7 linked regions of the Homo sapiens genome follow. The protein of the gene in region 1 interacts with the protein of each later gene in a biochemical or structural test. Each region holds a gene or a part of one and is shown in the gene's direction. Other genes may lie near its edges. The genes, in order: CAPN6, PDZRN3, PALS2, SYNJ2BP, CARD11, MPP2 and TAMALIN.

Evidence for each region.
Region 2: the proteins of CAPN6 (region 1) and PDZRN3 interact in a test that uses a peptide from one of them, tested with the Homo sapiens proteins (one large-scale study listed by IntAct).
Region 3: the proteins of CAPN6 (region 1) and PALS2 interact in a test that uses a peptide from one of them, tested with the Homo sapiens proteins (one large-scale study listed by IntAct).
Region 4: the proteins of CAPN6 (region 1) and SYNJ2BP interact in a test that uses a peptide from one of them, tested with the Homo sapiens proteins (one large-scale study listed by IntAct).
Region 5: the proteins of CAPN6 (region 1) and CARD11 interact in a test that uses a peptide from one of them, tested with the Homo sapiens proteins (one large-scale study listed by IntAct).
Region 6: the proteins of CAPN6 (region 1) and MPP2 interact in a test that uses a peptide from one of them, tested with the Homo sapiens proteins (one large-scale study listed by IntAct).
Region 7: the proteins of CAPN6 (region 1) and TAMALIN interact in a test that uses a peptide from one of them, tested with the Homo sapiens proteins (one large-scale study listed by IntAct).

Annotation. Positions count from the first base shown.
Region 1 is NC_000023.11:111,256,573-111,260,833, reverse strand, and holds part of CAPN6 (calpain-6), read left to right. Parts: intron 1-4,261. UniProt on the Homo sapiens protein: Microtubule-stabilizing protein that may be involved in the regulation of microtubule dynamics and cytoskeletal organization. May act as a regulator of RAC1 activity through interaction with ARHGEF2 to control lamellipodial formation and cell mobility.
Region 2 is NC_000003.12:73,600,624-73,604,884, reverse strand, and holds part of PDZRN3 (E3 ubiquitin-protein ligase PDZRN3), read left to right. Parts: intron 1-2,423; coding exon 2,424-2,531; intron 2,532-4,261. UniProt on the Homo sapiens protein: E3 ubiquitin-protein ligase. Plays an important role in regulating the surface level of MUSK on myotubes. Mediates the ubiquitination of MUSK, promoting its endocytosis and lysosomal degradation. Might contribute to terminal myogenic differentiation.
Region 3 is NC_000007.14:24,579,412-24,583,672, forward strand, and holds part of PALS2 (protein PALS2), read left to right. Parts: intron 1-4,261.
Region 4 is NC_000014.9:70,389,317-70,393,577, reverse strand, and holds part of SYNJ2BP (synaptojanin-2-binding protein), read left to right. Parts: intron 1-4,261. UniProt on the Homo sapiens protein: Regulates endocytosis of activin type 2 receptor kinases through the Ral/RALBP1-dependent pathway and may be involved in suppression of activin-induced signal transduction.
Region 5 is NC_000007.14:2,907,433-2,911,693, reverse strand, and holds part of CARD11 (caspase recruitment domain-containing protein 11), read left to right. Parts: intron 1-1,528; coding exon 1,529-1,644; intron 1,645-4,261. UniProt on the Homo sapiens protein: Adapter protein that plays a key role in adaptive immune response by transducing the activation of NF-kappa-B downstream of T-cell receptor (TCR) and B-cell receptor (BCR) engagement.
Region 6 is NC_000017.11:43,879,773-43,884,033, reverse strand, and holds part of MPP2 (MAGUK p55 subfamily member 2), read left to right. Parts: intron 1-678; coding exon 679-831; intron 832-981; coding exon 982-1,131; intron 1,132-1,522; coding exon 1,523-1,750; intron 1,751-2,444; coding exon 2,445-2,576; intron 2,577-2,684; coding exon 2,685-2,790; intron 2,791-2,875; coding exon 2,876-2,944; intron 2,945-3,149; coding exon of another isoform or gene 3,150-3,181; coding exon 3,182-3,343; intron 3,344-4,049; coding exon 4,050-4,252; intron 4,253-4,261. UniProt on the Homo sapiens protein: Postsynaptic MAGUK scaffold protein that links CADM1 cell adhesion molecules to core components of the postsynaptic density. In CA1 pyramidal neurons, required for synaptic KCNN2-containing channel function and long-term potentiation expression.
Region 7 is NC_000012.12:52,009,185-52,013,167, forward strand, and holds part of TAMALIN (protein TAMALIN), read left to right. Parts: intron 1-5; coding exon 6-55; intron 56-1,307; exon of another isoform or gene 1,308-1,378; intron 1,379-1,696; coding exon 1,697-1,751; intron 1,752-1,854; coding exon 1,855-1,957; exon of another isoform or gene 1,958-1,998; coding exon of another isoform or gene 1,999-2,023; intron 2,024-3,983. UniProt on the Homo sapiens protein: Plays a role in intracellular trafficking and contributes to the macromolecular organization of group 1 metabotropic glutamate receptors (mGluRs) at synapses.

The DNA of each region.
Region 1 (4,261 bases):
CATATGGACAGTAAATCATGTAGAATTTTTGAAGAAGGGGAGGTTACCATAGATTGGAATGGTTGGAGAAGGGGCCTCTTGTGGGGAGCAGGAGAAAAAAACAAGGTTCTGGACCACCATCTGAGCCTCCTCCAAAAGCTGTGGATTCCTTCCCAGCCAGAGTGGAGGCCAAGCCTGTGGTCAAGAACCACGTCAAAGTTCTCTGGCCTCCCATCAGGAAAGCTGAGAGACAGAGCTGGGCCTCTCTGAATTGGCTCAGGAAGGCCAGATGAGCCGTTGGCCTCCCCCACCTCATTGGCAAGGTTGAGATCCTGGTTTGCAGCGAAACTTACAGACATCTTGTCCCTTGGCATGCCATGTAGCTGCACACTTAACTGGGGCTATTTTCTGAAGTCTCCAAAATGGAAGCAACACGATTAACCTGATATTTTCTGTCTTTTTCCTTTCTCGTGTTGAAGGCTTTTGCCTTCGTAAGCCTCCATGCCTGCAAACACCACTGATAGTTTAACAAACTGACTCCAGTCAAGCTCCGCCCCTCGCCGCCTTGGCGCCCCCCCGGCCCCCCGCCGCCCCATTCTTGGGCAGGATTGAGTTCCCCTCCTCCCACTTGCCACTTCTTTGCTGTGTTTTAAGGAGCCTCTTCAGATGACAGGAATTATGAATGTCTTGCAATTGTTCAATGCCAGATCATCTGCCCATACCCTCCAGAGGAAAGTTCTTCTTAATTTCTCCAGCCGTCTATTGGCCTCAGCTGTTGTCCTAGCTTTCTGAATACACAGGTATATTACCTGAGACCATGTGCTCCTGGACTTTTCTATTCTCCTGGAGCTCAACATATATAGTCTTCATAAATTATAAGGTCTAACTTATACTGAGTTACAGTGTGATCATAAGACTGCCGGTAGGATTTTTAGGCTGAAATCTGCCTGCCAAATTCCCACAGAAAATCTCTTCTCCAGCTCCCTCCAGCCACTCTCCCCTCCTACCCACCTCTGGCGTTTTTCCTTACTGACTCATATCTACCTACAATAGTGTCTTAAAATCAGACACATCTAATCCCTGACTAAAAAGGAGTAAAGCCTCATGGGAATTTGCACTGTCAGCTGTGAGGAAAAAAGGGCACCTGCACAAGATCTGTCAGCTCTCCTGTCAAGTTTTAAGTTCAGCCTTCGCTACCATTGCCATTGCCTAGTCTTCCCCTCTAGAATACATTCCCCTGGGGCCATTTTACTACATTGTCTGGTTGAGAGTGGGAGGGTGATGAGGCTCTGGATTAAAATTATGGTAGTAGGAATGGAAGGGAAAGGCAGATAAGGGAAGACATTAGAAGCAGAATATACAGGCTTGGGTGACAGCATATGAGGGAACCGTAAGGAAAGAAACACTTTTCTCTCTGTGCTAATAGAAATTTCCAACCACCAGCTGAATGCAACACCTAGGTATAGTAGTTTTGGCCTAGTCTGCTCAAGAATTTCCTTTTCTTCCCAGAGACTATATCACCCCATGTGAGTAGTCCTAAGTGTTTTCCACTGTTTACACAATTGAAGAGAGTTGAATAGGCCCATAGTCTTTTCTCCAACTGTCCTATTTATTTTAAATTATGCATTAACAAACTTTAACAGCTTTATCGAAGTGCAATTTATATATTGTGAAACTCACCTGTTTTAAGTATACAAAGCAATGATTTTTAGTAAATTTAAAGTTGTGCAAACATTACCACAACCCAGTTGTAGAAGAGCTGCATCACTTCAATAAGATCCCTTGTGCACATTTGAAGGGAGTAATCCCTCCACCCTACCCCCACCCCTGCTGCAGCCAACCACTAATGTACTTTTGGTTTCTATCCAGAACTGCCTATTCTGTACATTTCACTTAAAATGGAATCATAAAAGTAACTGGCTTCTTTTTCTTAGCATAATGTTCTCAAGAGTCATCCATGTTGTAGCATGTATCAATTTATTCCATCTTATTGCTGAACAGTATTCCGTTGCATAGATATATAAATTCTTCCCAAAAAAGCAGTTCGGGATCTGTGCCTTGAGTCTCCTAGCAGAATCCTGAAGGTTAAAGTGAGAAAATGATTACACAGTGATTTGGTGGCCCAGTTTGGAAGTGGAGGTTGGGCCTAAGATCCTATTCTATTCTCCATATTGAGCTTTCCTTGGATGGGTTAGGAAGGAAGAGACTATTTTATTGATAATAAAATCTTCATGCAGAATTGAAACTCCCCAGTAGGAAAAGTGGACTTCTTGAGAGGCTGGTGCAACATTAGTCCCTGAGCCTAAGTCCACCTATAAATGCTCCATCTGGGGGATGGTTCAATTTTCTAAGTAAGATAACGACTACTTGGACTAGCTCACAAAACCCTCAGTTCCTGAATAGCAGTTCTGTGCAAATTAGCCCCTGAGCTTTCTGGGACTATTTAGACCCTGGACTTATTCATAATATACCTACTGCAGGCCTGACCTCACTTGTAGGTGTCCACACCCCTACCCCCTCACTACTGCTAGATTGCACGTAGCACTTTTGAAAGTGTTTCCACTATTCTGGCTGCTGGTTTTCTGGGCAGCTTTTCATTTTACTGAGGTTCCTGCGGTTTACCCTGGACCTCCATGTTTATTGTCAGTAAATTTCACCTGTGTAAAAAAAATGCTGAATTTGGATGTGGTAGGTGCAAAGGGAGTCACATAGAGTGCCTTGTGCAGGGCTACAGGACTTGTAACTGTATGCCCCCTCCCGCTCAGAGGTCTCTGGGAAGGAGGATGAAGTAAGGACAATGAGAAGTCCCTTAAGACTAAGCTAAGAGAACACACTTCCTAGAGAAGCTGCTTTGCTTAATGGAAGGTTTTGGCTCAGAAGTGGGGTCATGCGGGGACCATTTCAGCTTTACTCTTGGTACTCAACTTCCTAGTTGTGTGTTTCTTCCTAAGAAATCATTTTGCCGTGACAAAATGATCACTTCAACTGTGCCAGCACAGCTGGGAGCCATTAGGGGCTCAGCATCCCTCCTTGCTCCTAAGCCACCCAAATGTTGTGAATATGTGTGCTGTGACCTCTCCTCCAACCCCATTCCTACCACTCCAGCACAGCTCAAGCTGAAATGTCCCATCTGCACTCTGCATCTCAGCTTTGAGTTACAGAAAAATTTCTCGTCTTACATCCTTAACCCCAACAGGAAGATATCCAGTGTGTCCAAAATTAGGGGAGAAGTCAACAAACAGTCATTTTGTTGTTTTCAAATTTGTCACCAAATAGTCTGTTTGGCTGCTAGGTTTGCATTGGCTTATTACCCTTTACCCTTTCTAAATCCTTGGCTACTTTCTAGTCTTTTAATGCCTCACTTCCTTAAAGAGGCAGAAGATAGGGCTTAATAAAGGATTTATTTCCCGTATTTCATATCACGATGCTTACATATAGTAAGAGATTGATTCATATTTATTGAATTTAATTGAGCAGACTAACGCCTATTAGTGATATTCATCCTGGAACCAAAAGCTAAGAGGTAAGTAAATTTCCCAAAAGAGTGAAGAGTGTTTAGGTAGGTTTTAAGCAGAGGCATAAAACACTGGGATGAATGACTGAAAGAGGTAGTAGCATCTCTGTCCCTGAGGAGTTGCACAATATCATCCTTTATGTGGTGGCCATTGTTGAGCCTAAAGGCACAGGGATGGATGACTGAGGTCTTCAGCTTCTTTCTCTAGCCATATGTGGTTCTGAAAAATAAAAAACTTTAGGCCTAGGTCTCCTGCTGACTAGCTAGATGATCAGAGTAGCAAGTTATTGCCCCTCTCTGAGCTTGCTTCCTCATGTGAAAAATAGGCTTTACTAGATAGTCTCCAAAATTCATTCCAGTTTTGACATTCTATGACTGTTAACTTGTCATGTTTTAAATCTATTGTTAAATAGCCATCACGTATGAAAAGGGGTAAAGTATAACTGGAGAATGGGCCAGTTTATAAGAGGAAATGGAATGTTGTGGGGGGGGGGGTCCCAAATTTACATTCTCTCATGAATTTCACACAGCTTTTAATATATATATTATATGTACATACATGTATATACATAGACACATATAATATATAATAATCATATCCATCTTGGGTCAAGAAGAGAATAATTACCCCATTCCTCAATTTGAATTGTTTATATGTCTTTTTGCTCACTTATGTGACCCTTTATGTCTTCAATAGAAGTTGACATGCCAAAAGTGTTGGCTAAGCCTAGATACCTACTGTGAAATGAAAATTTTATGGAAATTCAA
Region 2 (4,261 bases), on another chromosome or scaffold:
TCTCACTGCTGGTGTTTGTTCTTGCTTCTTCCTCTCTGATTTTTGCTTGAACTTTCTAGTACTCCTTAAGAGTTATTACTTATGTGCAATGTGGTATTTTGCAAAACAAACGAAAGCCAAAATCCTATCCCCTATCTCCCTCTTTCTCTCCAGCCAAGAAATGCAAAGTGGTTAAATCAGAGTAAACACAGATCTCTTTTCATTTGATATATTGACATCACCTCTTAGGGAACTCAAGCTTGTTCATAAATCTTTTGTGGTCCATTGAGACTCTTCAAGTTCATCTAGTGGAATATTCCATAGCCTGAAATGTTGGACTTCTGAATTCCTGTGTGTTTTGAGTTTTCTCAGTGGGAGACAATATTGCACACAGAGCATGTAATGTGCAAGAGGATCCGCTTCGCCTCAGTTTGAAACTGAGCCATACCACTTTTTAGCTGTGTGACCTTGGATGAGTTTCCGAACCTCTCTCAGTCTCAGGTTTTTCACCTGTGGAATGGGTAATAATAGTACTTACCACTTGTGGTTATTGTGAGGATTAAACAGTGCACATAGAGCACTCACTATGTACCTGGTACCTAGTTTGTGCTCAGTAAAGGAAGCTGCTTTGCAGCTTTATACATATATTTCAGGTGTGCATGTAGGGAGCTACACGGATGTGTTCAGACTAGTGCCTCAGTAAGGCTGCCGTGAGAGAGGAAGGAGGCACAGAGGTATTCAGATGGTAAAGGGTTAGTGTGCAGGAGGTCTGTGCAGAGCACTGTGATGCTAGGCAGGGATGCCTTTTGAGGATAGATGATCCTACACAGCACCCACAGGCTCCCTGACCCTTCTCTTGGAAGAGCGTTGATGGAATCCAGATGCCAGTTAGAGACATATCTTTGTCATGTGGGGATAAATGTCAGGAAAAACACTTAATGCTCATTTTAGGTTGTGATTTTGGTTTCTTTTGGTGAATCATATAACATTTTACTCTGTGTGTGTGTGTGTGTGTGTGTATGTGTGTGTGTGTGTTTGGGGAAGTGTGAAGAAGGAAGGAGAGAAGGACTGAGAAATGTACATTTTTCCAAGCTTAGTTATTGCTGTTGCATTTGAAGGGGTAGACTGAATCACACTTGAAGTCGTTTCCTTCCCCCTTTAGAATATAGGGATTGTTTTTTGGTTTTGTTTTTTGCTGTTTAAAGTGGAAAATGTTTTATTTGAAGAGTTATTTTTAACAAATGGAATTTTTATGTATTTGTATTCAGAGTAATTGTTATTGAAATAAATCTTCTAATGACATACGGCAAGGAATTTACCATGACTAGATTTTGGAGTTTTTGTGGAACATTCTGAGCTTACATTTCAAATGATTTTGTTTGGAAATATCACATGCTTGTGCCATTTAATTTATAAATCCATCTGTTAATCACTAGAAATTTAATCCGTACACTTGGAGAGAATTCATTGCAGTGCTGTTTGAAAAGAAGTTCGTGAACAAGCTGTGAGGGTTTTTTATGAGCTTGTTGGAGCCTTTTGATTTTAAGGAAAGGAAGGAGTTTGAACAGTGAGCTGTCTTCGTTCCCAGAAAGTTTTAGTTCTGACATTTAATTCAAAGATCTAAAGAGATTCAAGGAGGTCAGAGATCAGAATTTATTAGGACTAGAGTGATGGTAGTGCATCGGAACAAAAACAAAATATCTGTTTTCACAGTCAAATTATTAGATATTTACAAGTTTAATAACATTCTGTGCAAATGAGGATGTGGGAAAACACTCTGTCTAATGAACAATAAGTATAAACTCTCTGAAAAGCCATTTGGCAATATCTTTGAAATGTACATATCCTTTTACCCAACAGTTCCATTGTTAGGGATTTGCCCTAGAACTATAATAGCAAAGATAATTTAAAATACAAGTAGGAGAGTATTATCACAGCATTGTTTAATCACAGCAAATGAAAACAGTGTTTATTAGCCTCATGTTGGATACTGTTCAGTCACTTTAAGAAGTAAGGCAGACACGAATTGGTAGCAGAAGATCTTCATGATTTTTAGAGTTAAATGAGAGAGGCAAGGACATAAGAGTCAGACTAGCATAATCACATTTGTATGCAAAAAGGAACAAATGCATATTTAGGAATATGATGTGTTAAAATGTTTTCAAAAGGATGCATAAAGTCAAATAGCTACCATAGGCGGGGGAAGAAGGACAATGGGTTGGAGATGGCAGGGATGCATCATTTTATGTCCTTTGGTGTGGTTTGAAATATTTTACTGTGTGTGTATTTTAGTTTAAAACAGAAATTAGGAGAAACAAATACCTTTTACCCTATTGCCACTCTTGACACAGCAAGAGTCAATTACTGTTTTAAGAGTGCAAGCTTTACTTTCATGCTCAACTTAATGCCTAGCATTCATGCATGTTTTTTTTTTTAACCCAAAGGATAACCACGATGGATCATCCAGTGAAGGAATCTTTGTATCCAAGATAGTTGACAGTGGGCCTGCAGCCAAGGAAGGAGGCCTGCAAATTCATGACAGGATTATTGAGGTATGTGAATACTGGCCAGTGTCTTTGAATAGGCTGAATGCCATCCCATCTTCGTCTAGCTCAAAGCAAGATGTTTGACTGGGGAGGGAGGCCTAAAGTGGTAGATGGTTGAGCGGGAGTCTCACTTTTCCCATTGTGTGGGACCAGATTGAGTGTTGATTGCCTTGGTGTTAAATTTTTGTTAAATGTAGAAAAGCCAGATTATGAGTGGAATGTTCACAATTTGGCTTTTTTCATGTGGACCTCAATCTGTTTCGTATGCATCAGTTACAGTTTCGCGCGAAAACCGTTGAAGAGTTGGATGTTAGAACCAGATGAACGAACCCTGTTGTACAAATTGTGCACCCTGTTCATATTGATTACCAGGGTACAATTGTGTCAGCTTTGGAGTCATTCTAATGTCCTCAGAGCTCACACAGCACACACTTATTTCTACAAATGCATTGTTCTCTCTGTTAGTTTGTCGTCTTTGCCTGTTGTTAGTTGTACAACCTGATTGCCCAGGGATTTGCAGGCAGAGGTTGATATTAGGGTTCACATATCATCACTTACTCCATTTTCAGTTCGTCATTCATCATTTCAAACTTTTATACAGCAGGTTTGTAGACTCATGTAGGGGAAGTGGATCTCTCAGCCCCACCAGACAACACTTTGTAACAGGGTTGCAGTGTTCTAGGATGCTCTGAGTCACTAAAAGGGAGAGAATGATTTGTTGCCTTCTCATATGGGCTCTTGTTGCAAAGTTTGATATAAATGAGTAATTTTTTACTGGTGTTTTGACCATTTTCATAGCTCTTTGGATGGATACACATATGGGCTAAATTGATTGGCTTTCCTATTAGGCAAAAAGTAAATTTGAGAATCCACGATGATATGCCAGACCCCACAAGAAATTCACCCATGGGCCACAGCCGTAATATAGTGCAAATAGAAGAAACCAGAAAAACAGCACCGATACCAGTGGGTGTTTGTTTTCCACATGCATTTTTATCATGTCTGTATTTCCTGAGTATTTTCATGGCCTATTTCAAAATTTAGGACTGAGTGGGAGCTAGGACCACGAGCTAAGCCATAAGTGAAGTTCACATCACTCACTGGAATGTGGCCACAGGCTTCTCCTGGGGAAAGGAGCCTCAGCAAGACAGAGAACAAAGTCTTGCATTTCCAGTCTCATCTGGACACATTCTGCAACGTGCAGTATGCTTCAGGATAATTTGTAATCCTCAGGAAAATACACAGTTAAATCTCACAGGGAAAGCAAACTGAACTAGTTAGGGTGTAAGGCTCCCTCCTCGGAGGGAGTGTGATGTGCTAACTTACATGCTAAAATGATACTTGATTTTGTTTTAAGGACATTATTAATATTGTTGCATCCCCTTTGAATGTTTGAAGGGTTCTTAAACTTGGAGCTTTTTTTGCTGCATGGTTTAGAGTCAGTCTTTGTACTTCCCAGGTCAGGAGACTGGATTTTCCCTAACAGGAATTTGCTTGGGCAAGAGTGCTTTCTTAAGAGCTCAAATGCGTTACTTACTGTCTTTTTTGAGAGTGAATACATTTTCTGAGACTATTGTTCAAAAAGATAAGTACAGCTTCCGTTGCCAAGGGTTTGGTGGAACAGCCAGTTTCTCTAAGTAATGGAATTTCATTGCTCTTGTGTTTTGCAAATGAGAAATCTACAGCTGGGCAGGATTTTCTCTTGGCAAAGGATGATCTGTATTTGAAATGTTGAG
Region 3 (4,261 bases), on another chromosome or scaffold:
AAAGGGTAAAAAGTTAATGCACAACTTATTTGAACACTAACTTGCATTGCTTTGTTTTTGGCTAAAGTCATAAACAAACTGAAACAGCAGGCTTCCTCCCCCAAAAAGAGATACCTTTTGAGTGGTATTTAGTTACCCCTTTCCATCTTCTCCATTCCCCTTTCTTCTACCCCAGTACTGGTAAAGTTGTTTATAAATCACCGAGATTTTCCGATACTTTGTATCCTTCACACAGCCCAGCACTTTGTTACCTACTTAGTAGCACTAAGTAAAGATTTAATTGAAGGAGCTTAGCTTATCACCTTTTTATAGACCCAGTTCATAATTCTTATGTTTTTGGAAGAAATCTTTTATAAAAAGTGATTTTCAATTTCATTTGATAAATCTACTTAGAATATTTATTAGAATAGGCAATAGAGCAATTTTTTATAAATCTTGGTTTATTGTATAGCATATTAATGGAACTTTTTCATAGTTGCTTTGTTCTGTAGGATATTATTAGATATTAGTTGGGTAGGATTAATATTTTTAAAAGATAGAATAGGGCAGCTGGAGATATGTGGGACTTTTAAAGAAAAATGTATGAGAAAGTGTGGGGAAAATGATTCTCTGAGCAGACTGGGGGCCATATGCTTAGGAAAGGAAAAGTGAAAGGTGAGGGATTCGTTTAGAGAAATTCTGTGGTGGAACTCAGAGGGGTACATGTTGGGAGAAGTTTTAACTTAGGAAAATACTAAGCTGATTTACTTAAATGCATATTTCAAGGATAAATACTTTATATTTTGTTCTGTAGGTCATTTTTACCATGAAGTGACTCTGGCAGGGATTCTTTACCTAAGTGGGCATCAGAATCCTTTGGAGCTATCCTACGCTAAAGGATTCTAATTTAGTAGGTCTGGTATGGGGCAGGAGCATGTTTATATTGTTAAAATCCCCAGGAGCCACCATTTGAGTGTAAAATAATACATCCTGTGGAATATTCCATTTTAATAATGAAATCATTCAACAAAGCTTTTGAGGTTGTATATAATTTAGGTAACTCTAATGCTGGAACTTGGTCTCTCACCAGGTCAATACTTCTGCACATACCTCATTGATCCCCATTGCTTTACTCTCTTGCATACTCTTCCCTCCTCTGCCTTCTTGTTTCTTTTCTACTAATGAATATTCAGGCATGGTTCTCCAAGGAAGCCATCATTAGGTGGCCTCATCCATAATTTATCTTTTCAGTACAGAACAAATTATAACACAGTGCTTATACAACTGGCAAGTACACTCATCACATGAGTAGATGATTTATGTGTTTTCGTTCACATGAGCCTTGAACAAATATACCCAGTTTTACTAGTTGAGCTTCCTTGTTTTTTCTTCTTGCTATCAAGAGGTTGGCGTTTAGTCATAGTTAATGCTGATGTAAACATTTGATAATATTATAGATACCACCATGTTTCAAGGTCTATGTTAAATGCTCTCCACACATTATCTCATCTGCTTGTTGCAGATTTTAAAATTATGTTTTTTAAGTCACTAAAATCTTTTTATGATTGTATTAGTTTTCTGTGACTGCTGTGACAAATTGCCACAGACTTAGTGGCTTATAAATAAATGTATTCTCTTACGATTCTGAAGGCCAGACATTTGAAATCAGTATAATTGGGCCAAAATCAAGGTGTCAACAGGGACATTTTTCCTCCAAAGAATCTAAGGGAGAACTTACTTGTTGCCTTTTCCAGTTTCTGGTGGCTTCTGGCATTCCTTGGCTTGCGGCTACACACTGCAGTCTTCAAGGCTGGCATTTGAAATCTTTCAGCTCTGTGTCTTTCATTTCCCCACGTGTGTGTGTGTGTGTGTGTGTGTGTGTGTGTGTGTGTGTGTGTGTCAGAGAGAAAGGGAAATCTCCCTCTGTGAAGGACACTTGTGAAGGCATTTAGTGCTCTCTGGAATAACCTCCCCATCACAAGATCTTTAATCACACCTGTGAAACTTTCCAAATGCGGTGACATTCATAGGTGTCAGGAATTAAGACATAGATATCTTGTGGAGGGGGAGACTATTATTCAGCCTACCATAATGGTAATTTAAATAGTTCAGAAAAGGGAGGAGGAGTTGATAAGTCTTTTTGTCCCATCTTCATCACTTTCTAAGTCAGTATTTCTCAATCAGGGATGATTTTGCTGAACAATCTCCAGGAATATTTGGCTGTCACAACTGGGAAGGTGTTGCTACTACTATGTATAAGGTATAGGTCAGGGATGCTGCAAACAGTGCACAGGGCAGCCCCCCTCAACAAGGAGTCATCCAGCCCAAAATGTCAGTAGTGATGAAGCCGAGAAACGTTATTCTAAAGGCAACTATTGCCAATAGCTTTTTTGGGGTATCCAGAAAAAATTTTGATGCCTCTATTACGAGTAAAAGCCTTTAATCTGATTTGATCAGAACGGGTGGTAGTTTTGGCTGACTGAAAGTGATTTAAGTGAAGAGTCATAAACGATTGACACATATCTTAAATAATATATTACTTAAAAATCTACATTCATGTGTCAGTCTTTTCTTTAAGTATGTGTCTTTTGCCAGGAACTCTGGGTCATCATTCTTATATAAGCCAATGCATTATCACTGATTACCAGCTTTGGAGTGAGAACTTAAAAGTTTGTGAAGCAGTCTGCATATAAGATCTAGATTTCTAATGTTTTATGACTCCTCAATTGTTTATACTTGTTTTACCCTTAATTTTACAGCAGTTTATCATTTTGTTTTGTTGTTTTGTCACTTGCTTTTTTGGGGTCTTCCCAAAGCATCAACTGATTTTCATATAAAGAATATAACTCCCATCATCTTGTATCAAATACAGCATATGATGCATATAAAGAAAATGAAATCCTATTTTGTAATAATGGCTTGCTAAGGAATTGGGAATACTAATTCTAGTCGCAGCTCATTTGAACAGCATCCAATCTGGTGATATGGTGAGGGCTAATGTCAGTTGTTTACAAATTCTTGAATGTTTCAGAACATTTTGTTTTAGTTCTGTAATGGCAGAGTTTATAAATAATCTATAGAATATTACTATAAATACTTTATTGGTATTACCAGCTTAGTGCTTGCGTTACTTTTCTAAAAGAAACATTGATTTTTTTTTCATTAACTGTAATAAATATTATTTGAAGTTTGAATGTGGCTATCTTTGAGTGGATTTGTCTTCTTTTTATTTACTAGAATATGTATGTCTATATGCACATAATAAAATGTTATATGGAAAACCTAACTTTAGTTACATAAATAAAAAATTATTTGCTTTTTTTATTCCTCTTTTAATATCCTTCTATCTTCTATCCTTGTATAAGGAGCTAGAAGGTATAAGAAACTCCAATAATTGGGTTTCTTATAAAGAGCTTTGATATAAGAAACTCAGATAATTGAGTAAAGAAGTTTAATTTATTAAAGTTGCTTATTTTTGAAATGATAGTCATGCTTTTTTTTTTTTTTTTTTTTTTTTTTGAGACAGAGTCTTGCTCTGTCACCCAGGCTGCTAGAGTGCAGTGGCGTGATCTCGGCTCACTGCAACCTCTGCCTCCCGGATTCAAGTGATTCTCCTGCCTCAGCTTCCTGAGTGGCTGGGATTACAGATGTGTGCCACCACGCCCAGCTAATTTTTGTATTTTTAGTAGAGAGGGTTTCACCATGTTGGCCAGGATGGTCCTGAACTCCTGACCTCGTGATCTGCCTGCCTTGGCCTCCCAAAGTGCTGGGATTACAAGCGTGAGCCACCGTGCCTGGAAATCATTCATATTTTTATACAAATCAATTTAAATGTTTTTTATTTTTTAGCTAGTAATCTTTTGGAATGGAGGTCAGTAAAAAAAAATGTAAGCCCTATTTTTAAAAGGTTGGACTATCTTGTGAGACAAAGTAGTCTCAGTTTGCCATCACCAACCAATCCTTAGCATTAAGCTCTTGAAAACAACTAGGTAGAGAAATTTTCCGTGAAGGAATTTAATGATCTTTATAAAGTTTTACTATTCACCCAATTAAAATGTTAGATTATCATTTTATGCTATTCAATTTGGAAATACCAGATACTATACAATTAGTTTCCATTCACCATTACTTTCTTGAAAGAAACTTTTCACGACTTTCAATAAGGTCCCCTGCCCCCAAATAAAGTGGTTATAAATCCTAGGAGGCATTTTTGAGGATATCTTATTCAGATCCTTTCTTTTTTTTTTTTTCCCATGCTAAATATTTATTTAATTTTTTTTTT
Region 4 (4,261 bases), on another chromosome or scaffold:
TCCAGTCTATTGTTGATGGGCATTTGGGTTGGTTCCAAGTCTTTGCTATTGTAAACAGTGCTGCAGTAAACATATGTGTGCCTGTGTGTTTATAGTAGAATGATTTATAATCCTTTGGGTATATACCCAGTAATGGGATTGCTGGGTCAAATGGTATTTCTGCTTCTAGATCCTTGAGGAATCTCCACACTGTCTTCCATAATGGTTGAACTAATTTACACTCCCACCAACAGTGTAAAAGCATCCCCATTTCTCCACATCCTCGCCAGCATCTGTTGTTTCCAGACTTTTTAATGATCGCCATTCCAATTGGCATGAGATGGCATCTCTTTTGATTTGCATTTCTCTAATGAGCAGTGATGATGAGCTTTTCTTTATATGTTGTTGGCCGTATAAATGTCTTCTTTTGAGAAGTGTCTGTTCATATCCTTTGCCCACTTTTTGATGGGGTTGTTTGTTTTTTCCTTGTAAATTTGTTTAAGTTCCTTGTAGATTCTGGATATTAGCCCTTTGTCAGATGGATAGATTGCAAAAATTTTCTCCCATTTTGTAGGTTACCTGTCCACTCTGATGATAGTTTCTTTTGCTGAGCAAAAGCTCTTTAATTGATCCCATTTGTCAATTTTGGCTTTTGTGGCAATTGCTTTTGGGATATGTGGTCACCCTACTTATGCAAGATTTTTCTGGGCCATAGCCAATGATTAGCAAGATACGTATTGAATAGCCTTTCCCTTTCTGGTGGTTTCCAACTGACATCTGTTTCAATTGGTTGGTCCATATGCTGGATGATTGCCGCAGAGTTTAGATATCACACTTGCTAGAAACTACTCTTAAGGGGGATTTCTAGGTCACATGCCATAGACGTACTTAATAAGTTTGAGTTCCTGTTTATAGATGGGTGGAATTTTAAAATCTGTCTTCCCATTTTTTAGGAGATTTTGCATTTCTACTGTATATTTATTCATTCTTTCTCTGTCAAACTATCTAGTTTGGAGCTTTAGCAGCCATTAGTTTATTGACAACTACTCCTAGCGCCTTATCCCAATAGAGCAACTACTATGTAGTTTATGAAGATTTTTTTTCGTATTTTATGTTATTGGCCCCTAACACTTACCCATTGATGTAGACAGGGCAGAATTTATAATTCTTATTTTTGTAGAAAAGGAAGCTGAGGATCAGAGGTAAACTGACTTGCTTCAGTCCACATATCTGGTAAGTTATAAACTTAGAACCAAGTCTTCTGACTTTGATTTGCTTCTACAATATCTAAAAGGGACAGGGAAAAGGATAAATTTGGGTTTGTGGTTAAAATAGGAACTGTCCAGGTTAGCTTTATATCTTCCTCAGAGCATAACGTAATGCCTAACACATAGTAAATGTTGATTTGCTTCTGCAATATCTTAAAGGGACAGGAAAAAGGAAAAACTCCAGTTTGTGATCAAAGCAGGGAGTGTGCAGTTTAACTTTATGTCTTCCTCAGATGATAACACAACATCTTACACATAAGATTCAATCAGTAATTTTTACTGAGCAAGTGAACTGGGGATTATGTAGGTATCCGTACAGCCCAGGTTCAGTTGGTCATGCCACTACTTAATGCTGTGGTGACTCTTTTATTGCAGCAATGCTTTGGCTTATAGATACACCCAGTTCTGTAAATATTCTGGCTGAACAAAGGGCTTCAGGTCAGTCCAGGAGTTCTCATGTTAAATAGTTTGGTTCATTTACAACAGAAGTAGCAACGGGTTATAAATGTACCTATATAATATGACTTCGATGGGGTGTGTAGTAGACGGCTCTTTTTTGTTTATGGTAAATCTCGGTAAAATTTCTTCTACTCTTCCTTTTTTTTCTACAGTTAGCTTTGAATAACCAGTAGCAAAGTCCTTTCTGTTGCTAACTACTACATTGCATTCAGCTGCTTAACATTTGCTTCCTGTTCCCAAGATCACCAGAGGCAACTGTAGCATTTGATGAGGGTGTTGGATTTCATCAAAAGATTTTTCTACATAGTTTGTTCCAGCTTGGGAGAGGTGGGTTGGCCTTGGCCCCCTTGTTCAAAGCTGTCACAGTTTTGAAGTCATTTCAAAACCTTCGATAATCTTGTTCCATCTGCTTTTCCACCTTATCTTACATTTCTGTACCTTCTCCAATACTTCCTACCTTCTATGATACAAATTGAGGGTGCTCTAAGAAAATCATTTAGTAAGTTAAGCTACTATTTTTAATACCCAGCCCTTCAAGGAAGTTAAAATAGCATCTTCCAGAAGTAGCACCTTCTTATTTATTTTTTTAGAGAATAGGGTCTTGCTATGTTGCCCAGCCAGGTCACAAACTCCAGAAGTAGCACTTTCTATTATGTATATTATTTTAGAGAATAAATTCTTTCTATTATCTAGCTGCAGAGATTTTATGCACAAGGTATGCTTTTTATGTATTTTATTTTATTTTTGAGATGGGGGTCTCACTCTGTCACCCTGGCTGGAGTGCAGTGACACAATCTTGGCTCACTGCAACCTCTGCCTCCCAGGGTCAAATGATCCTCCTACCTCAGCCTCCCAATGTTGGTCATGTGCCACCACGCGTGTCTAATTTTTTGTATTTTTGGTAGAGACGGGGTTTCACCACGTTGCCCAGGCTGGTCTCGAACTCCTGAGCTCAAGTGATCCACCCACCTTGGCCTCCCAAAGTGCTGGGATTATAGGCGTGAGCCACCATGCCTGGCTAAGGTATGCTTTTTAACTTAAATGTTTCCTGTTGTGTCTTTGTTTGGTCATGTTTTTCTTTAAATTACAAATTGATTTGCTAGTGCTTATGTTAATACTGTGAGCTTCAGGTGTAAGCTTTTCTCCCACCAATGGGGAGAACTTTCAGAAAGCCCGCATATGTCTCTTTTTTATTTTTTTTTTTGAGATGGAGTCTTGCTCTGTCGCCCAGGCTGGAGTGCAGTGATGCAATCTCAGCTCACTGCAAACTCCACCTCCCGGGTTCACGCCATTCTCCTGCCTCAGCCTCCCGAGTAGCTGGGACTACAGGTGCCTGCCACCATGCCCAGGTGATTTTTTGTATTTTTAGTAGAGACAGGGTTTCACTGTGTTAGCCAAGATGGTCTCGATCTCCTGACCTTGTGATCCACCTGCCTTGGCCTCCCAAAGTGCTGGGATTACAGTCGTGAGCCACCGCGCCCGGCCCCCCGCATATGTCTCTTTAAGTATCTTTTCTATTGAGAACAGTGTAGGCTGGTGATTATGGTTATTCCTTCCAATTGCACCGCTAGATTTTTGGTTTGTTTCCAAACTATCTCCTTTGTCTTACACTGTGCCCCTGAATTCTACCAGTAGCTGACATTAAGAAAGCCCTAGAGAAGTTCCTTTTTCCTTTTTATTTTTTTATGCATAGGTAAAATCCTTTCCTAACAACGGTTTCTGTACAGTAAAATCCTTTCCAGCACTTAGTCATTGGTCCATAGAAATAGCACTTTGGTACTCAGTTTTCTTTCCTTCTCTTTTTTCTTTCTTTTAATATTTTGTTTTACTGTGGTAGGAACACTTAACGTGAGATCTACTCCGAACAGATTTTTCAGTGTATGATATAGTATTATCTGTAGGCACAATGTTGTACAGCAGATCTCTAGAACTTAATTCATCTTGCATAACTAAAATTATATGCATTTAAAATAGTTAAACTCATAAAAACAAATATTAGAATGGTGGTTTCCAAGGACTTAGGGAAGAGGAACTGGGGAGTTGCTAATCAACGAGTAGTCAGTTTTTTCTACAGTGAATAAAAGTTGTCAATTACTATGCCCAAGTATAGATTGAGTAGCCCAAATCCAAAAATCTGAAATTTGAAATGCTTCCAACTCCAAAATTTTTTAAGGGCCAACATGACGTTCAAAGGAAATGCTCATTGAAGCATTGCAGATTTCAGATTTTTGGATTAGGGATATTCAACTGGTAAGTTTAATTCAAATATTCCAAAATCCCCCAAATTCAAAATTCAAAACACATTTGGTCCTAAGCATTTTGGATAAGGGATACTCAACCTATATATGGTTGTACTTGAAGTAGCGAAGGAAGGGAGAGTAAATTTGGTGATTTAGTCCTACCATGAAATAGCAGTTACCTTTCTGGTTCTGAGGTTTCTCTGCCAATACCTACACCACTGCCTCCACCACCAAAATGGAAAAAAAAAAAAAAAAAAAGAAACTCTCAAGAGATTTTTCTAAAGCACTATCATACATAAATTCTCCAGAAGCTTG
Region 5 (4,261 bases), on another chromosome or scaffold:
TCTTCCTCGTCCCAGCACTGGATGAAGAAAAGGCTCTCTGTCCGCGTCACTGGAGGGCTCCCCCAGCTGCCGGGGGCTGGCTCCGTGGTGGACGCTGACCTTGGGGATGGCAAGAGCAGATGGTGGTGTTTTTGTTTTTTTTAAGTCTGGGCCACAGCAGTTTAGGAAATTCTGATAGCTGGCGTGGATAGAAAGTGAGCAGACAGGGTTGGAGCTGAGATTGTTTTTAGCTGAAAAGAAGAAGCCTTCCAGCAGATCTGTGCTGTAGAAATGTGGGCCATGGTCCTATTGGTGGGGAATGGGGAGCAGTGGCCCCGCAGGAGGCCCAAGGAGACCCTGGGCGAGGGGGGTCATTCCCACCTCCAGACACGAGTGCTAGACTGCGTTCAGTTTGTGAAATTCACTGAGCTGCATGCTTAGAATGCTGTGTTTATGTTCTATTCCAATGCAAAGTTTGATGTTTTATTTATTTAGAGACTGGGGCTCGCTCTGTTGCCCAGCCTGGAGTGCAGGGCATGATCCCGGCTTACTGCAGCCGCGACTTCTAGGCTGAAGCAACTCTCCCGCCTCTGCCTCCCGAGTAGCTGGGACTACAGTTACTCACCACCATGCCCAGCTAATGATTTTCTAATTTTTTTAGAGATAGGGTCTTGTTATATTGCCCAGGCTGGTCTCGAACTCCTAGCGTCAAGCAATCCTCCCACCTCCCAAAGTGCTGGGATTGCTGGCATGAGCCACCATGCCAACATTTGGTGGAATTTTTTTTTAAGTGATGCCTTCAGCAAAGCAGAAATTGCCCTTTCTCAAAATGATGAGCTCATGGTTGAGAACCTTGCAGATACTCCTGGGACCTGCCAGCCTCGCCGCCTCACCCTTCATGTGTTCCCTACCCTCTTACTTGAAGGCTGGCTAGGGTAGCAGGTGTTTTGGGGTGTGTGTGTGTGTGCGTGTGTGTGTATGTGTGTGTGTGTGTGTTTGAGACAGTGTCTCACTCTGTCACCCAGGCTGGAATGCAGTGGCACCATCTCGGCTCACCGCAACCTCCACCTCCCGGGTTCAAGTGATTCTCCTGCCTCAGCCTCCCGAGTAGCTGGGATTACAGGCGTGGGCCACCGCACCCAGCTAATTTTTATACTTTTAGTAGAGACAGGGTTTTGCCGTGTTGGCCAGGCTGGTCTCGAACTCCTGACCCCAAGTGATCGGCCCGCCTGGGCCTCCCAAAGTGCTGGGATTACAGGCGTGAGCCACCACGCCCGGCTGGTAGCAGGTGTTTCATTCAAACTCATTCACGCCACCTGGTTCACCCCGTCCGGGGCCTCATCTCTGCCCATGAACATCACTGTGGTCAGCAGAGTCCTGGAGTGTCCAGACTCATGTGGGGGTCTCATCTCCTGGATCAGCGGCAGGTGGCTTTCAGGGCTCCCGCCCCGCTATAGACCCCAACCCTGCATCCAGGCCCCGCTGCAGGCACCTTCACAGGAGCGGGAGGTGGGTGGGCTGCTGCTGACCAAAGCCGCTGTGCCCGCAGAACAAGCACTGCCTGCTGGAGGCTGGGATCGGCTGCACAAGAGACTTGATCAAGTCCAACATCTACCCCATCGTGCTCTTCATCCGGGTGTGTGAGAAGAACATCAAGAGGTTCAGGTAGGGCTCCCAGACCCCTAAGGGCTGTCCCCTCCTGTCCCTAGCACCCCACCAAGCCTCCATGGATCGCAGGAGGCCTGTGTGCCCCCACCTCATGCACCCCTTTTGTAAACCCTCACCAAGTACGGGACTGACCTTGCAGAGCTGATGCCAAGGACAGCGGCCGAGATGGTGACTCACATATGGGGCGCATCCCAGGGGACAAGAGCTGGGAGGGACGGGGCGGAGTGCCCATCACCCAGGGTGGTCCGGGAAGGCCTGGGGTATCCATCAGCGAGACCCATGGCAGTGAGGGGGGCCTAGGAGATGAGAAAGAAGACGCAATCTGGGCAGCAGGGGAACAGCTGGTGCTCAGACCCTGAGACAGATGTTTGGGCGGAATGGTGAGGGACGGAGGGGTGAGGGGCGGAGTGGTGAGGGACAGAGGGGTGAGAGGCTGAGGAGTGAGGGGCGGAGGGTGAGGGACGGAGAGTGAGAGGCTGAGGGGTGAGGGGCGCAGGGGTGAGAGGCAGAGGGTGAGGGGTGGAGGGGTGAGGGGCGCAGGGGTGAGGGGCGGAGGGGTGAGAGGCTGGGGAGTGAGGGGCAGAGGGTGAGGGACAGAGGGGTGAGAGGCTGAGGAGTGAGGGGCGGAGGGTGAGGGACGGAGAGTGAGAGGCTGAGGGGTGAGGGGCAGCGGGTCCAGGCCATGCAGGGCCACGGGAGGCTGCGACATCTTGTTCTGGGTGCATCTGGAGGCCACTGAAGGTGGCATGGTCCACTTTAGGGTATAAACGCACCTCTCACCTCTGGACACGGGCAGGGTGGCGGTGTGGGCCGGGCTTCTGTCTGAGAGGCGATGAGAGGCAGTCTGACTCCGAATCCGTGTTCAGGGTCGAGCCTGCAGGATTCGGGAAAGGGTTCACTCTGGGGTTCCAGAGAACCAGAGGCTGGGCGCGGTGGCTCACGCCTATAATCCCCACACTTTGGGAGGCCAAGGTGGGCACATCAGCTGAAGTTGGTAGTTTGAGACCAGCTTGGCCAACATGGTGAAACCCCATCTCTACTAAAAATACAAAAAAAATTAGCTGGGCGTGGTGGCGGGCACCTGTAGTCCCAGCTACTCAGGAGGCAGAAGCAGGAGAATCGCTTGAACGTGGGAGGGGCAGGTTGCAGTGAGCTGAGATCGAGCCACTGCACTCCAGCCTGGGCGACAGAGTGAGACTCCATCTCAGAAAAAAAAAAACAAAAAAAAAAAAACGAAAGGACGGCGCTGAGGTTTGGGGCCTGGGTGATGAGGACAGACTGGCCCTTAAGTGGCTTCATCTCGGATCCCCGCCCCTCCTCGCACGCACCTGCAAAATAAATGTCCTGCCACCATTTTGCAGAGGGAATCACAGACTGAGAGTTTAGGCCCATTCATTCCTTTTCACCAGATACTCACTGAGCCATTGTGAAGGGTTAGGCTCTGGGGAACGCAGCAGTGAGCAAAAGAGACGGGCATCCCCCTCGATACCTCACACCCGTTAGGCTGGCCAGGACCAAAAGGACAGAAACTGACAAGTGTTGACGAGGAGGGTAGACGTCGGAACCCGGTGCACAGCTGCTGGAAATGCAAAAGAGAGCGGCCACTGTGGAGGACAGCATGGCGATGCCCCCAAAAATTAAAAATAGAATACTATATAATCCAGCAACCCCACCTGCGGGCATATCCCCAAGAGAATTGAGAGCAGGGTCTGTAAGAGACATATACACGCCCGTGTTCACAGCAGCGTTACTCCCAATAGCCAAAACGTAGACGTCACCTAAGGGTCGGTCTGTGGGGAGTGAATACACACAATAGGGCCCATCCATACAGGCTAGGAAGGTGGCAAGAGCTGAAAACCTTGCAAACTGTTAACAAAAAAAGAGTTGAAACAAAGAAACAATAATACATTTAATGCATGAGAAATACTAGCATGGTACATACCCCCTTCCCTGATCTGTCCTGCCTGGGAATGTGTTTATGGTGCAGTGTGTATCACAACAAAAATACTGTATGGAGTATTTTTTTTTTTTTGAGACGGAGTCTCACTCTGTCACCCAGGCTGAAGTGCAGTGGCACGATCTCGGCTCACTGCAGCCTCCACCTCCCAGGTTCAAGAGATTCTCCTACCTCAGCCTCCCGAGTAGCTGGGATTACAGGTGCCCACCACCATGCCTGGCTAATTTGTGTATTTTTACTAGAGATTGGGTTTCACCATGTTGGCCAGCTGGTCTCGAACTCCTGACTTCAAGTGATCCTCCTGCCTCGGCCTCCCAGAGTGCTGGGATTACAGGCCTGAGCCACCGCACCCGGCCCATAGAGTGGAGTATTATTCAGCCTTGAAAAGGAAGGAGATTCTCACACCCACTCCAACATGGATGAACCTTGAGGGTGTCATTCTCAGTTAAATAAGCCAGTTACAAAAACACACATGCTGTATGTGATTCCGCTTCTGTGAGGTCTCTAGAGCAGTCAGATTCCTAGAGACAGCAAGTAGAAGGGTGGTTCTCAGGGGCTGCCGGAGGGAAGATGGGGAGTGAGTATTTAATGGGCCCAGAGTTGCAGTTTGGGAAGTTGAGAAAGTTCTGGAGATTGGTTGCACAGCGGTGTGAATAT
Region 6 (4,261 bases), on another chromosome or scaffold:
AAAATGGTCTTCATATATATTATTGAAATGGAATTCTTTTCTTCCTGACCCATCTAACCTAACACTCCCCACTGGGCTGGTCACTGGCGAAGGATTCCTTTTCTGTTTTCAGCGCTCCTTGGTATGGAGCCCGGAGCCAGCAGAGCAACAAATAGGTGCAGGGCCTGCTCCTGGCACCGTGTTCTGATTTCCTGTCCCCTCATTCGCTGGGAACACTGAGTTGAGGGCCTGGAGACGCAAGTTCAAGTCCCATTGACCCTGGGAAAGTTATTCTACCTCCCTAATTTCCTCATCCTGGGCTTCAGGGTCTTCAAGGCCCCACCCAACCATGATGTCTGGTGGAAGAAGCCATCTTTGAACGCCAATGCATATAGGGTCCTGGGAGCTGGGGACAATTTGGTAACTTCTAATGACCCTCTGTGGCAAGGGGATGGAAAGGAAGGTTTGTCCTTTGGTTTCTTCCTTCCCTAAACTAGGTCCTAGTAATTTTGGGGAAGAAAGGAGACAGCAAGGAATGCATGTGCACGTGTGGGTATGATTGTCAGTGAGTGAGGAGCTGAAGCTGGGGGCTGGGGGGTGGGATGGGGAAAATGCCTGGGGGCTGAGGGAGGACCCTGCTTGGTGTCCCAGGGCTCCTGGGGAAGCTCCTAGCCCCACCTGTTCTGCTTCCACCCCCAGGCCCATGAGAGGCTGGAGGAGACGAAGCTGGAGGCCGTGAGAGACAACAACCTGGAGCTGGTGCAGGAGATCCTGCGGGACCTGGCGCAGCTGGCTGAGCAGAGCAGCACAGCCGCCGAGCTGGCCCACATCCTCCAGGAGCCCCACTTCCAGGTTCCTGGCTGCTAGGGCTGGGGTGAGGGAGCAGGAGGTGGGTGGACTGGGGCATGCTGCTGTTGGATGGGCCAGCAGGAAGTTGGATCTGGGATGGGAAGAGACCCGGGACACTGCCCCATTGTCCCTTCTCTTCCCACCACCCCCCAGTCCCTCCTGGAGACGCACGACTCTGTGGCCTCAAAGACCTATGAGACACCACCCCCCAGCCCTGGCCTGGACCCTACATTCAGCAACCAGCCTGTACCTCCCGATGCTGTGCGCATGGTGGGCATCCGCAAGACAGCCGGAGAACATCTGGTGAGGACTGGGCAGGGCCAGAGGTGGTGCTGGTGAGGGTGGGGGGATTGAGAATAACCAATGAACGGACAAAAAAGGCCAAGTGTGGTCTGAAGATGAAGATGGGGCCAGCTTTGTGCAGGGAAGGATTGATGCAGCAAAGGGTCGGGGGAAGACCCAGGAGACCATAGACACTGCACACACACCTGTGTCCGCACCTCTCCAGTCTGCCCACCTCTCCCCTCATTAGTACCTGCTGTAAGTGAAGAATTTAGGCAGAAGGATGGAGGAGGACTTTGTGAGGGTGGGGGTGGGTGGGTAGGGACAGGAATGGAGGAGCTATTAGGAGACTATTTGAAGATTCTGACTTGGAGCAATTGGGGCCTCATCTTACACTCCCTCTGACCTCCAGGGTGTAACGTTCCGCGTGGAGGGCGGCGAGCTGGTGATCGCGCGCATTCTGCATGGGGGCATGGTGGCTCAACAAGGCCTGCTGCATGTGGGTGACATCATCAAGGAGGTGAACGGGCAGCCAGTGGGCAGTGACCCCCGCGCACTGCAGGAGCTCCTGCGCAATGCCAGTGGCAGTGTCATCCTCAAGATCCTGCCCAGCTACCAGGAGCCCCATCTGCCCCGCCAGGTGGGCCCCTCACCCAGCACAAGGCCCAAGGGATGGCTGAGCCTCCTGGCTGTCAAGGTTGCAGGTCTCACGGAGGCCCTCCTCTCCTACTGGTTTCCTCCAGGGAAGATGGGGGTGGGACCTGCAGCCCAGGGGCAGCTGACCGCAGCCGCCGACAGGCCTCTGCCGCTGCTGCACCTGCACATGCTCCCACATTGGCTGGTATTATGCACGCAGCCACAGCCTGGGGTACAAGTGTATGAGAGAGCGCCTGCATTATGGTCAGCGTTCTTCACGTTTGTGCGCGTGCGCAGGGTGGGGTTGTCATATGTCCTGGATAGCTGTCTCCTGGTTGGTCAATTCTGGGGGTGTGGCTGCTCTGTCTCCCTATCCTATTGGGTCTCTCGCCCTCCACCAGAGCCCTTCTCCAAGGGGAGAGGGTGAGTGGAGGGAGGGATCCAGGATTAGGTGCCAGGGTCCTGTGCCCTACTTGGTGGTCCCGCATCCTTGGTCCTGAGATCTGAATCCTGTAGTACTAGATGCAAAGGGAGGTTGGCACCAGGGAGGAGCATGGGCAGGCCTGGAGGCATCACTCCTGCAGGGGGACAGTTCCATTGCCCCTTAGTCTCTGTGAAAAGAGGGGGCATGGGGTAGACCTCCACCTGCAGCCTTCTGCTGACCCTTCCCCCGACCCTTTGCTGATTCCTGGGCCCAGGTATTTGTGAAATGTCACTTTGACTATGACCCGGCCCGAGACAGCCTCATCCCCTGCAAGGAAGCAGGCCTGCGCTTCAACGCCGGGGACTTGCTCCAGATCGTAAACCAGGATGATGCCAACTGGTGGCAGGTGAGCTGCGGGCACCCCCGCATCTCTCCAGGTATGGTGCATGGGAGGGCGAGGGCACAGGGAGGGGTCCTCTTGCTCAGGCAGATCTTGGTCTCATGTCCGTTTTAGGCATGCCATGTCGAAGGGGGCAGTGCTGGGCTCATTCCCAGCCAGCTGCTGGAGGAGAAGCGGAAAGCATTTGTCAAGAGGGACCTGGAGCTGACACCAAACTCAGGTAGGAGGTCCCCCCTACCCCACACCTCCAATCTGGGATCCAACAGGGCCCTGTCTGCCTCACTCACCCATCTCCCTATGGCCAGGGACCCTATGCGGCAGCCTTTCAGGAAAGAAAAAGAAGCGAATGATGTATTTGACCACCAAGAATGCAGGTGGGTATCAGAGCGCCCCCTCCCTTACCCTCCTCTAACATGGCATGCCTTTCCCTGTCCCCACCCATCACCTGTGACGACGTGTGCCTGGCTCAGATGCTGCCAGCCGTGTCCCTAGGCCCTGCCCGACTCCCCCCTGCTCCCCTGTTCCAAGCCCTCTTGCCCTCAGCCTCCCTGAGAGCTCCGCCCCTCCCTCACCGTGCAGCCTGGTGAGCAGCGCCATCTCCCTGTGTCCAGAGTTTGACCGTCATGAGCTGCTCATTTATGAGGAGGTGGCCCGCATGCCCCCGTTCCGCCGGAAAACCCTGGTACTGATTGGGGCTCAGGGCGTGGGACGGCGCAGCCTGAAGAACAAGCTCATCATGTGGGATCCAGATCGCTATGGCACCACGGTGCCCTGTGAGTGGGAGCTGGGCCCTGCTGAGTTGGGGACAAGGAGCAGGGCTCCCCTGGGGCCAGGGCTGGGCCCACCGAATGGGCATCTTCATGGGCACCAGGCCAGGTGGTACCTTTGGGTACACGGGTTGGGGTGCACGCCCTCTGTGGGTGGTTAGGGGAACTTCAGGCTCAGGAAGGGTGAGGGAGGTGTCCAGCCAACAGGTGGCCTAGCGGGCTGGGCTGGCGTCCACTTTCCTTCTCTTGTTTCACTTGCTAAAAGCCATGAAGAAAGTGAGTGCCCAGCTGTGCACCCGGGTGAAACAGGCTACGAGCTGCATGTGTGTAGCCTTGTGGAAGACAGGGCTTCTTAGTGGCAGAAACAGCGGGGGTGGTGGAAGCTCCTGGCTGCCAGAGGCAGGACTAAGAGCACTGCCCTGGTCTGCTTGGCTCTTGCTGTGTGGCTTTGGGCTGTACATTGCCCTTTCTGGACCTCAGCCTCTCTTCTGTGGGCTCTGGGCTGGACCATGATTACCAGCTCATGTCTCTGTGTGTGCCAATGGGGAGAGTGGGGGGCAGGTGTGTGCAAAGGCAGCAGTGCTGGCAAGATGGGGAGCAGACTGCACCTCCAAGGCTGGGAAACGGGGGCCTGGGTAGGGGTGCATATATGTGTCTGAGGCACTGTAACCTGCCCCTGCCCATTTGGTCCAACCTACCCCCATCCCCCTAGACACCTCCCGGCGGCCGAAAGACTCAGAGCGGGAAGGTCAGGGTTACAGCTTTGTGTCCCGTGGGGAGATGGAGGCTGACGTCCGTGCTGGGCGCTACCTGGAGCATGGCGAATACGAGGGCAACCTGTATGGCACACGTATTGACTCCATCCGGGGCGTGGTCGCTGCTGGGAAGGTGTGCGTGCTGGATGTCAACCCCCAGGTACCGCCA
Region 7 (3,983 bases), on another chromosome or scaffold:
CCCAGGGCTCAGGATTCCGCTGGAAGAATCTCAGCCAGAGTCCTGAACAGCAGCGGTGAGTCACCAACACCCAGCCCCTGCCATGGTCCAAAGGGGTGAGGTGCTGGGTTGGGGGGTGCCAGGACAGCATCTCAGCCTAGCGAGGGTAGTCATTCTCCTAGCCTTTAAACATGGCTCCCCCGCTGGGAGTGAGGGCAGGTGGGGGTGAGGGCTGTGTGAAGGGGGTGGCAGAGAAAGGAGGTAGGGACTTTTGAGTCATTAGGTGCTCTTCAACACACCCCCAGTCCCTGCCAGTTACCCCTCCCTGGGGAGATCTGGATGAACGGATGTGGGAGTTGGGAGGGGGTGTAGGCAAAGTCTATGGGGAACGTCCTAACCCAGGCCTCCTGGGCTCCCCTGAGCCCTCCTAGCCTTGGCAAACCCCACGGGCCCAGACCTTAGCCAGGCTGTGTCCAGCTGCTTGGGGCTGGCTGCCCCTGCCTCCAGAATGTCAGTCCTCTTCTGGTCCCAGCCTGTGGCAGCCCTCTTAGGAGGGATCTGAGCGTGGGCAGAAGTAGGTGCTGACTCCAGGCCCTGGGACCCCACAGTTTCCCTTCTCTACTCATGTCCCATCCCTGATTTGGGCTTGACTTTCTCTAAAATGGATCAGCAAACTGACCTGCTAGCCAGATTGGCCTGTTTGGCCCTTGAGCTAATAATTTTTAAAGAGTTGTAAAAATAAAAACAAATAACAATATATGACAGAGATCATAAGGGGCCTGCAAAGAAAGCCTAAAGTATTTACCATTTGGCCCTTTGCAGAAAAAGTTTGCTGACCCTTCCAAAAAACCCTAGAACATTGGGGTAGACGCGGAACTCCCAGCCACCCTGCTCCCTGCCCCAATAGTACAGAGAGGGGAAAGGCCTGCTGTTCAGAGTGAGAGGGGCTCGAGCTGGAGTGGGGAGGTGCTGCTCAGCATTTGGGGGAATCTCTGGGTCAGGCTGGAAGCGGAGAAGCCTGGTCTCCAGGGCCTTTCCGAGGCTGAGCTACTTGAAGGGGCCTTTGGAGGCTGCTTTAACTGTGCCTCTGGCTGGGCGGGAAGGAAGGGGGTGGGAGTGGGCAGAGGAAACTCTGGGCTCCCCCAGCAGGCGAGGATCTGGAGCAGCTCCAGACCATTGTGTCCAGCGGGCAGGCCTTCAGTGCGGGAAGGGGCGGCCTCGAGGCTCCCCTCCCCCAGCCCCCACATCTGGTGGGCTGGCCCCAGCATAGCTGGGAGGAGCAGCTGTGGTCTTGCTGAGCCTCGTGACTGGCCTCTGGGGGTGGGGCCAGTCCTCTCTCCAAAGCTGTGGAACAGAGGAGGCTCCAGGCTGTGGCTGAATTTCGGGCCTTAGCTAGTCAGTAAGTGGTACTGTAGGGCTCACTGGAAAGCTGGGATGGGGCTAAAAAACTCAGCCGGCTCATCCTTCAGGGGACCGGCCCTTCTCTGTGCTTCCCTCCCACCACTAGAGGCTGGATTGGTTCTCTGTGGCTCCATGAGGCTGATTTCAATTGGGTATGGGAAAGACATTCCAATAATCTGTGATGAGACTGAGCTGTCACTGGAGACAGAGTCCTGCTGGAATGTTCTAGACCAGTTGCCAATATCCAGGGAGGCCCAAGCTATGGGACTTCTACACCTTTTAATCCTAATTGTCTTGACCCCTGTGTCTCTTGCAGGAAAGTGCTGACGTTGGAGAAGGAGGATAACCAGACCTTCGGCTTTGAGATCCAGGTGGGAGAAGCTGCACACAGGGGTCAGGGGGGTTGGATGACCAGCCTGAGGGATGAACGGACTTGTCCCAACCCTGGGCTGAGGGTCCCCTTGTCCATTACAGACTTATGGCCTTCACCACCGGGAGGAGCAGCGTGTGGAAATGGTGACCTTTGTCTGCCGAGTTCATGAGTCTAGCCCTGCCCAGCTGGCTGGGCTCACACCAGGTGGGGCCTGAGCCCAGGACACCCAGGTCTGGGAAGGGGATATGACCTTACTCCCAAGCAAAGGGGGTGAGCAATCTCTCCTGAAATCAATTCCTCTTCCTTTTCCTTCTTTGAGAAGGCCAGAAAGAAGAATGGATAGAATCTGGGCTTTGGATCTAGGCAAATTTGCCATGTACTGTGTGATCTTGCACAGCCCCATCTACAAAATGAGGGTAATAATGCATCCAAACATCACAGTGCGGCAAGGGGATTCCCTGGGCACACTGCCAGGGCCTAATTAATGGTGGATGATGCTGCTGCTGCTCTGATTCCTCCCAGCAACCCTGGCAGTCAGCATGGGCAGGAGCCAGGGAAGAAGCAACATTCCATTAAGTCTGTTTGATATTGGGGATCAGGCCAATCCTGCCCCAAAATGGGCCCAGTGCTGAGGAACCGATGTTACTCCCTTTTAAAAAATTAGAAACTTTTTTTTTTTTTAAGAGACAGGGCCTCAGTCTGTCACCCAGGCTAGAGTGCAGTGGCGTAATCATAACTCACTATAACCTTGAACTCCTGGGCTCAAGCGATCCTCCTCTTGCCTCTGCCTCCCAAAGCAATATGTTACTTCCTCTAACAAGGAAATTATGCTTCAGCAGGAGATCCCTGGATTGAGCAGATCTAGAGTCCCCAGGTTCCAGGAAGGGCAGCCTGAAACTGTATGAATCAATCCCCCCTCCACCATCTTTGCCCCTAAGCCCCTACCTCCTTCCCACTTACCAGCAGCCCGTGCTAGCTATCTTAGTCCATTTTCTGTTACCATAACAGAATACCTGATACTGGGTAATTATAAAGAAAAGAGGTTTATTTAGCTCATGGTTCTGGAGGCTGGGAAGTTCAAGACTGGGTGGCCGCATCAGGTGAGGGCCTCATGCTGCGTTCTGACATGATGGATGGCATCTCATGGCAGGAACGCCTGCAAGAGTGGTGAGTAGGCACACGCAAAAGAGACAAAACATGGGTGATCTTGCTTTATAGCAACCCACTCGCCAGGTAACTAAACCAGTCCTACCAGAGCAAGAACTCACTCCCCAAAAACAGCATGGATCCCTTCACTGGGCAGATCCTTCATGGCCCAAATGCCACTTTTTTTGAGATGGAGTTTCGCTCTTGTTGCCCAGGCTGGAGTGCAATGGCATGATCTCAGCTCACTGCAGCCTCTGCCTCCCAGATTCAAGCAATTCTCCTGCCTCAGCCTCCCGAGTAGCTGGGATTACAGGCACTGGCCACCAAGCCCAGCTCATTTTTGTATTTTTAGTAGAGATGGGGTTTTGCCTTGTTGGCCAGGCTGGTCTCGAACTCCTGACCTCAGGTGATCCACCCGCCTCGGCCTCCCAAAGTGCTGGGATTACAGGTGTGAGCCACGGCGCTCGGCCCCAAATGCCTCTTAAAGGTCCTACCATCTCTCAGCACTGTTACGTTGGGGATGAAGCCTCAACATGAGTTTTGGGGACAAACAATATTTAAATGGTAGCAGTAGCCAAGTGGTATACTACAACTTCTCAAAGTAGTTTCAAATCCACTCTCCCTCCCCATCATCCCTGAAGCATCCACAGCAGGGATCCATACCCCTTTTTACAGATAGGAATGGGGCCCTGACATGGGGCACACTGTGCTTGAGGTCAGGAAGCTCTCCAGTGGTGCAGGGTAGCAGAACTATCCCTCTGGGGGCCAGTCATTCCCTGTGCTTCTCTCCCACCACCAGAGGCTGGACTGATTATCTGTGGATCCATGAGGCCATGCCATGCCTGGGGCCAGGGTCGGTTCCCAGCTGGGTGCTGCTCACCTGCTCTTCCCTGAATTGACTGGGTCTTATGGCCAGCGTGGACTGGACAGAAATAACCAAATCTGAGGGTAGCCCAGGGTCCTGGGTGGGCTTAGCTTTGGGACAGAACTTCTTTTTTTTTTTTTTTTTTTTGAGACGGAGTCTCGCTCTGTCGCCCAGGCTGGAGTGCAGTGGCGCGATCTCGGCTCACTGCAAGCTCCGCCT